2 linked regions of the Homo sapiens genome follow. The protein of the gene in region 2 interacts with the protein of the main gene of each other region in a pairwise test. Each region holds a gene or a part of one and is shown on either strand. Other genes may lie near its edges.

Region 1 (3,813 bases), on a different chromosome or scaffold from region 2:
CAGGGAGCCCCCGACCCACGACCCTGGCGCGCGGCGCAAGGCGATGCCCAAGCCTGGGACCCACGCCAGCGCCACCGCCTCCAAGCGGCGACCGAATTACTCCACGTGACGCTTCCACCCCATGCACACAGCACCGGGACATTAGCTGTGGCCGGAGCCGCCCGGGGCCACCGGACACCACCCCCACGCCCACCGCCTTGGAGCGCCCGCGAGCTTTCCCGACCGCCTCCCTGAGGGGTCTGGCTCCAGGCCCGCGGGGCCAATTCCGGATTTCCAGGGTTAGAAATGAGCCCACCTGGGCTCACCGAGCGCCGCCTCCTTCTCCCAAGCCCACTGCTCACTCCTCGCACCACCCCAGCCCAGACCCTCTTCCAGCCTCTCCGAATCTCGCAACTCGGTCCTCCAGCCACGGTTCGCCTGGGTTTACAAGTCACTTGTCAGAGGGAAAAAGTGGAGGGAGGGGAGAGACAGAACTTTAAGATTTTTCTCAGAAAGAAATGATAAAGTGTGACCCGGAGGTGGCGTAACATGCCCTGGTTCCATTAGGTAAACTGAGTCACTAACTCTGCTTCAGTGCGCTCGCTGTTTATTTTATTGGTTTGTTATAAGAAACTAAATTTACTCCGAGTCTTAATTTTCTGTAAGATGATTTTTTGTTAAGCAGCTGCGCAGTTGGATGAATCTATTATTTCTTTGTTCTCCCAAAGAGTGATCATTGAAGCTGCATCCAGTTTTATTTTCACTGCGCTAACACAATACATCCCTCCTTTGTTTCTTTGTCTGTGTGATTATACAGACTTTTTATTTCCTCATTCGATGTTCATTAAAGAAAGGGAGTTATAAGATGAACTGTTTCTTTTATTTCGTTGTCTTGTACTGCCGTGTAGATCGGGGCTTGCACATATGGGGGTGTCGTTGGCAGCGGGTCACTTGAGTGACAAGGAAGATGGAGTCTGGGGCAGAAGAAAGAATTCTGTGCACCCAGAGGGCCTGGTGGCTCCAGGGCTCCCATGGGGATCAGGGCTGTGTTCCTCAGGCTGCCAGGTTGGGGGGCATAAGGAAGAACTTTTGCAAAACTTAAAAAGTCGTCCCTGCTCTGTACCCTACACCTGTACATATTTGCTCGCTTACCACCTATGGTGGGACTTGTTGCAGCCTGCAAATGGTACTTTTACAGCTTTCATTCTCGGTTGTCACGGTTGTCGTTACTGCCACTGCCTTCCCCTTTCCCATTAAGTTCCAAGTCAATACCTTCAAGACCCACATTTTTTTTTTTGAGGCTCAATTAGAGAGTATTTTCTTTGGCTACAGTCTCTGAGGTTGGGTCAAAGAAAAAGATGTGTGTAACCCTGTTTGACTCCTGCCTCCTCCCTGCCCCCAGCCTCTGTGTGTATGAGAGACAGACAGACAGACAGACTTCCGAGGCTGCGCGTTACCTGCCGAATGCCGGGCTGATGAAAGCTGGGTGTCGGAACACTGCCGCTCCGAGGAAAGTGCTCAGGCCCAGCGGCGCCCCGCTGGGCGGCAGGCTGGCCGAGCCCGGAGGCGGAGGTAGGCTCGGGAAGGCGGCGGCGGCGGCGGCGGCAGCGGCAGTCCAAGCGGAGTCGAGCGCCGGGTGGTGCGGAGGGAAGGGGCTGGCGTCCAGGTAGGGGCTGAGCGGGTGGGTGGCGGAGAGCGGCCCCGGGAAGGGCAGCCCAGGGGGGTGGGTCTGCGCGCCTGCCTTCTCCCGCTTGCGCCACTTGGCCCGACGGTTCTGGAACCAGACCTGCAAGGCAGAGAGAGCCCAGGGTCGGCGCGGCTCGGCCCGGCGGGCGCACCGGGCCCCTACCCGTCCCTTCCCTTGGCGCGCTGCGGGGCCCCCTTCCTTTCCACCGCGGCCCGCGCCCACCTGCCCCTCTTTGGCCTCAGGTTGTTTTCGGACGCGTCTGGGGCCAAATGAGCAGTGAATAGGAGCCGCAACTTCAAGTCAGCAGGAAACAGGACAAGCAAACCCTTTCTGCCGGCATTCCACCTGGGCCAGTTTTCCAAGTTTAAGGAAAGTGATTCAGTGTGTTTAGAGTTGGGGAAACCAAAGTTTAAACGTCTGTGCTGACGCTTGCTAGGATCTTTAGGCAGGTCACTTAAACCTCTCTGAACCTCAGTTTTCGAATCTGTAAAATGGGGATAATAAAACTTCACTCATAAGGCTGTTATGAGAACTGGGTAAAATAAGGCAAGTGAAAGCATGCATTCAATGGTGACTCTAGGGAATGGGCAGCCACCAAGAGATGAGGGACATGCTTGTTTTACTGCATATCAGCTATTTTCACCTATTTCAGATTTACGCAAGAGCTGGCAAAATTCTTGCTCTGTATGGAAGAGGAAAGTGGAAAGATAGTTCATTTATTCTTTCCAGAAACATTTATTGAACACCAAAGAGCACTATGCTGGGTTCTGGGGTTCAGAGAGGGATGAGAGGGAGGGAAGAAAGGCTCGAGTTAATTAGCAAGCATACATTTCAGGGGGTCAATCCTCTATGAAATGAAACAGGGATACACAACCTGCTCTTGGCAGGGGATCCCTGCAGGACCCAGTTCTATGCAGGAAGGCACTGACTACATGGATGAAGCAGGCAGCAATACCTGGGCGCATAGAAATCAGAGGGCATGATAGGTGTAGACTTTTCACATCTTCAGAGCTAACAAGTCTTTTATTTCCTTTTGGAGATGTGTTTTAAATCGGCTATTTAAATAAGATAGTTTTAGGCTTGGAGGGAGGTTTTCAGCCTGAGGTATTTTCCTAATTGCTAATAGAAAGCGGTTTTAATGGAGACCTTTACCTGAAACATGGCAGCTACCATCATCTAAAAATAAACCCCAGGAGCATGAAATTATTTTTATGTGACCTGCTCATCACACCCACAGCTGGGAAGATATGCTCCTTCTCCCCTGAAGGCATTAATATTTTTAGGGCTGGGTTTATAACTGCACACAAGTCTGAAAATTAAGAATGAACTCCAGGGCTATACAGAGTTATATTAAAATATAATGTAAATTATCCCAGAGGAATATATTTTAAAATGTGAAACACATCCATATTTTTCAAATCTACACACTGGGGCTTGTTGTTACCAGCACTAGCATCTAAGCTTGGTTTGACTTCTAGACAGCCCCCCAGGGCAAGAAAAATCAAGAATCCAAATCGGTCAATTACTTCCAAGTCGGCCAAAAGGGGGCCCATTCACACCATTCCACAGCCTTCAAAATAATCTATTTGTGAATTTCAGAAACACTTCAGTGTGGAAACCCAGAGGCTTGAAAAAGTAAGACTGTAGATGGGACCGGACTGGGTGGGCAGCTTTTGTGTAGCCAAATCTGTCTAGACAAGAATATCCGCCACTCCTTGATCGCAGTGAAAGAAGAAGGGGAACTGGGGGCAGTGGACTCAGAATGCCCTCAAAGAACGTGGAAACCTTTTTACAGACAGATCGTCTCTCCCGGCTCAACTGCAATTATCAAGATGTCCCCCTGCAATTCCTCATTATTGAATTAATACCTCTGAGGCCCCCCAAAGGTAAACGAAAGGACTCTAATAATTCATATTCACTTAATTACATCTTCTCCAGTGAATAGGGGGAGAGGAGAAAGGGAGGGGGCGCTCTCTTTCTTTTTAAAAGTTATTTAACTTTCCCACGACTTGTTCCCCTGAGCTGAAAATACGGAGTTGCTGTCACATCTCTGTTTGACAATGGAGAAATGTGTCAACAGAAAGGAGGGGACAGGCCTCATCATTAGCCCTCTAATGCAAGAAGCTGTTGTGTATTAAATGAGCCAT
Region 2 (3,813 bases):
AGGTGGCTAATTCTCTTCCCTGGCTCTCTCAGGATGATATTCTATCCTTTGAGGCAGAGAAGCAGGCTGTATACCAGCAGGTGTACCGGCCAGTCTACTTCCAGCTGGTGGATGTGCTTCTGCACAAGGCCCAGTTCCCTTCTGATGAGGAATATGGATTCTGGTCCTCAGACGAGAAGGAGCAGTTCCGAATTTACAGGTGATGGTAGCAGGCCAACTCCTCTAAAATGGAGTCCAGAAATAATGAAGGCAATGAGGGAAGGGGCCCAAGTCCAGGCTTTCTGAATTTTGGTGCTCCTTTCTGTTTTCTAGGTATTGTTGCAGAGTTGTGGGGGTACTGGGGTAGGCTCCTGGGCTTGGGGGCAGGATCCAGGGTCAGGATCCAGGCAGTATAAAAGGCCTTCATCTGCTTCTCAGGGTGGACATCTCAGACACGCTCATGTATGTCTATGAGATGTTGGGGGCCGAGCTGCTCAGCAACCTCTATGACAAGCTGGGTCGTTTGCTCACCAGCTCAGAGGAGCCCTACTCCTGGCAGGTACCTCCCAAGCCTGATTCCCTCAGCCTTCCCAGACCTGTCACACCCTCCTCCTCATCCAAGCCAGTGGCACCCTCTTTCCCCAGCACACAGAGGCCCTCCTCTACGGCTTCCAATCCATCGCAGAGACCATTGACGTCAACTATTCTGATGTGGTGCCTGGGCTCATTGGCCTCATCCCACGGATCAGCATCAGCAACGTGCAGCTGGCAGACACTGTCATGTTCACCATTGGTGAGACCTGGCACACACCCATGACCATATTCCCAGAGCCACAGCACCCAACCCTGGCCACAGCCAGCATGCTGGATCCTATCCAGAATGGGAGAGCCACATGCCTACACACAATCAGTGTTGTAACAAACTGACTGTCCTGGCAGGTCTAGGGGGTCCATCTGATGGCACACTGAGCTGCAATTCAGTGAGGCTAGTTTACCGTCAGTGAAACAGCAGTACTGGGCCTCTGTTGAGTAACCCCTTCCTGCTTCTCAGCTGTAAGGCTCATGTTTGAGCATGCACATGCATATGTCCTCTGAATGGGGCAGTACTCTGTGCTGGGGCTGCAACTTGACCCTGCCAGGAACTCTGCTTGCCTCAGAGACATGGTACAAAGCCAGCCTGGCCTGCCTCAAAGATCCTCCTGTCTCCCTCCTTCCTCCAGGAGCTCTGTCTGAATGGCTGGCTGACCACCCCGTCATGATCAACAGTGTTCTGCCCTTGGTACTGCATGCCCTAGGCAATCCTGAGCTGTCTGTCTCTTCTGTGTCCACCCTCAAGAAGATCTGCCGAGAGTGCAAGTATGACCTGCCTCCCTATGCTGCCAACATTGTGGCTGTGTCCCAGGTATGCAGGGGCCCTGGATGGTGCTGGGCCTCAGAGCACACTCTGCACTGTGCTGATACTACATTCCTTCTTTCTCCCCTCAGGATGTGCTGATGAAACAGATCCACAAGGTGCGGCTCAAAAGTTTCTAGGGGTCTCCTTGGAGGTCTTGTGGGAATCACTTATCCCTGAAATCCTGTTTTTTGGCCTTCCCCTTCCTCTTATCCCTTATTCTCTGTTTTTCTTCTCCCAAGAGGCTCATTTTCCTTCCTACCCCACAACTAGATGTGGCCAGGACTGACCATCCATGTTCTGCCCCACAGACAAGCCAGTGCATGTGGCTGATGCAGGCGCTGGGCTTCCTGCTGTCAGCTCTTCAAGTGGAGGAGATCCTTAAGAACCTGCACTCGCTTATCTCACCCTATATCCAGCAACTGGAGAAGCTGGCAGAGGAGATAGTGAGTGAGCTCTGGGGGCCAGGGAGCGGTACTGAGATGCTGTGGCTGATGAGGGGTGAGGTTGGAGCTGGCCCTCAGAGCTGAGGCTCAGTGATCTGGGGACCAAACTGGGGCTGGGAGATCTGGAGCTTGGTTTGCTTCTCCCTGCAGCCCAATCCCTCCAACAAGCTGGCCATTGTTCACATCTTGGGGCTTCTCTCCAACCTCTTCACCACACTGGACATCAGTCATCATGAGGATGATCATGAAGGCCCTGAGCTTCGGAAGCTGCCAGTGCCACAGGGACCCAACCCCGTGGGTGACATTTGCCCACGGCAAAGACATTTGTCTTTGCCATCCCCCCAACCCCCACCTGTGGGAATGTCATTGTCACTCTTCAATTCTGTGGGTAATGTTGTCATTGTTCTCCCTGCCCCGTGGGCGTGATATATTTGGTCCTCTGACTCCATGAATGACCTATAATTGCCTCACTCTGTAGGCAGCAATGTCATTATCTCACTCAGCTCTGTGTGTGATGTTGTCCTTGTCCCCAGCCCAATTAGGGTGATGTCATTGAGATTCCTCAGCCCCATGAGGGACATTGACGTTATATCCTTCAACCCTTAAGTGATTTTATGGGCCCCTGTTCAACCCCTAGCTCTGTAGGGCCTTCTACTTCAACATTTACTGTCCCCTGTGGGCACTAAGGATGCTCATTACCTCCTCCGCATGTAATAGTTCTGGCCTTCAAGTTGCTCCCAGTGTAGAGGAAATTCAGGTTGCTCAAATTGTCACAAAGCAGTGTGATAAGTCCTGTGGTAAGCTTGGGCATAGGTTTTGGGGTGACCACTTACAAGCTGCTTGATCTGGGGCAAGCCTCAGCTTCCCATTAAAAACTATGAACATTGAAATGTCTGGCTTACTCAATTCATAGAACTGTGCTGGATAGTAGATGTGGTCTTAAGTGAAGGTAGTTTGCATATTGTAAAGTTCTTTACAAATATAAGGGACTGCTTTAGTCGTTGTTCCCAGAACTCCCTCCCAGATTTCTCCAGGAGAAAAGGAAGCCATAGGCATCCTGGCCTCTCTGCTTAACTCCCCAACCCAGTTTCAGTTAGCCTCTTGGCTTTAGACCACCCCTGGGCCACTGTCATCCCACAGAGCTGCTTCTTTACATGGTAGTCATCATCCTGCCTTTCCTCACCTCCCAGGACCTCAGTCTGCTCTCTGCTCCTCCATAAGCTGGGAGAGCAGCTTAAGCCTGCATCTGTGCATTCCTTGGGGCTCCCTACCTCAAGCCTATTTGGAGGAGATAGCATCTCCACTTCTTCAGAGGCTAGCCCATAGCCTTGGTTTTACAGAGCAGAGATAGGGAGAGATTTTTTTTTAAGTTTACAAAGTTTTTGTAACCTTATGAAGCACTTGTGATATCTCTGCTTTGCAGTTTGAGGCTTCCTTTGAGATGATCCCTAGAATTCAGGAAATACTCCTTTTTCATTCATGAGAGAGTTCAGCAAACCACTTCTTCCCCCAGGGGTCCCATGCCCTGGGTCCTCAATGTGTGTTCTGGGGTAATAGGTCTGAACTGCTCCCCTCCTCCCTGCCACCAAGTCCTCCTCAAGTGGGTCACAGTGATGGATAGCAGAAGCGCCTCACTTCTTCCTGTGCCTTCAGGTGGTGGTGGTGCTGCAGCAGGTCTTCCAGCTTATCCAGAAGGTGCTGAGCAAATGGTTGAATGATGCCCAGGTTGTGGAGGTGAGCCCTGACCCTTGCCCTCCGCTCCCATAGTGACTGCTCAGAGGTGTAGCAGGGTAAGATGTTACTGCCACACTTCAGCTTACAATGGTTTGGAGAAAACAAGGGAGGTGAATCCTGCCCCATAGAGATAAGGAATCTTTTGGGAAGACATTTAGAACTCCCCAATATCATGAGAAGTGCTTAACGTAAGGACTCTAATATTAGGGTCGAGTGACAGTCAGGCATCTGTTTTAGCACCAAAGACCTGCCTTTGGTCCC

Evidence for each region.
Region 1: the proteins of IPO13 (region 2) and ARX interact in a two-hybrid assay, tested with the Homo sapiens proteins (one large-scale study listed by BioGRID and IntAct).

What each region holds. Positions count from the first base shown.
Region 1 is NC_000023.11:25,005,675-25,009,487, forward strand, and holds part of ARX (homeobox protein ARX), read right to left. Parts: intron 1,766-3,813; coding exon 1,437-1,765; intron 1-1,436. UniProt on the Homo sapiens protein: Transcription factor. Binds to specific sequence motif 5'-TAATTA-3' in regulatory elements of target genes, such as histone demethylase KDM5C. Positively modulates transcription of KDM5C.
Region 2 is NC_000001.11:43,956,778-43,960,590, forward strand, and holds part of IPO13 (importin-13), read left to right. Parts: intron 1-32; coding exon 33-199; intron 200-417; coding exon 418-538; intron 539-624; coding exon 625-772; intron 773-1,199; coding exon 1,200-1,381; intron 1,382-1,464; coding exon 1,465-1,491; intron 1,492-1,683; coding exon 1,684-1,818; intron 1,819-1,968; coding exon 1,969-2,112; intron 2,113-3,471; coding exon 3,472-3,552; intron 3,553-3,813. UniProt on the Homo sapiens protein: Functions in nuclear protein import as nuclear transport receptor. Serves as receptor for nuclear localization signals (NLS) in cargo substrates.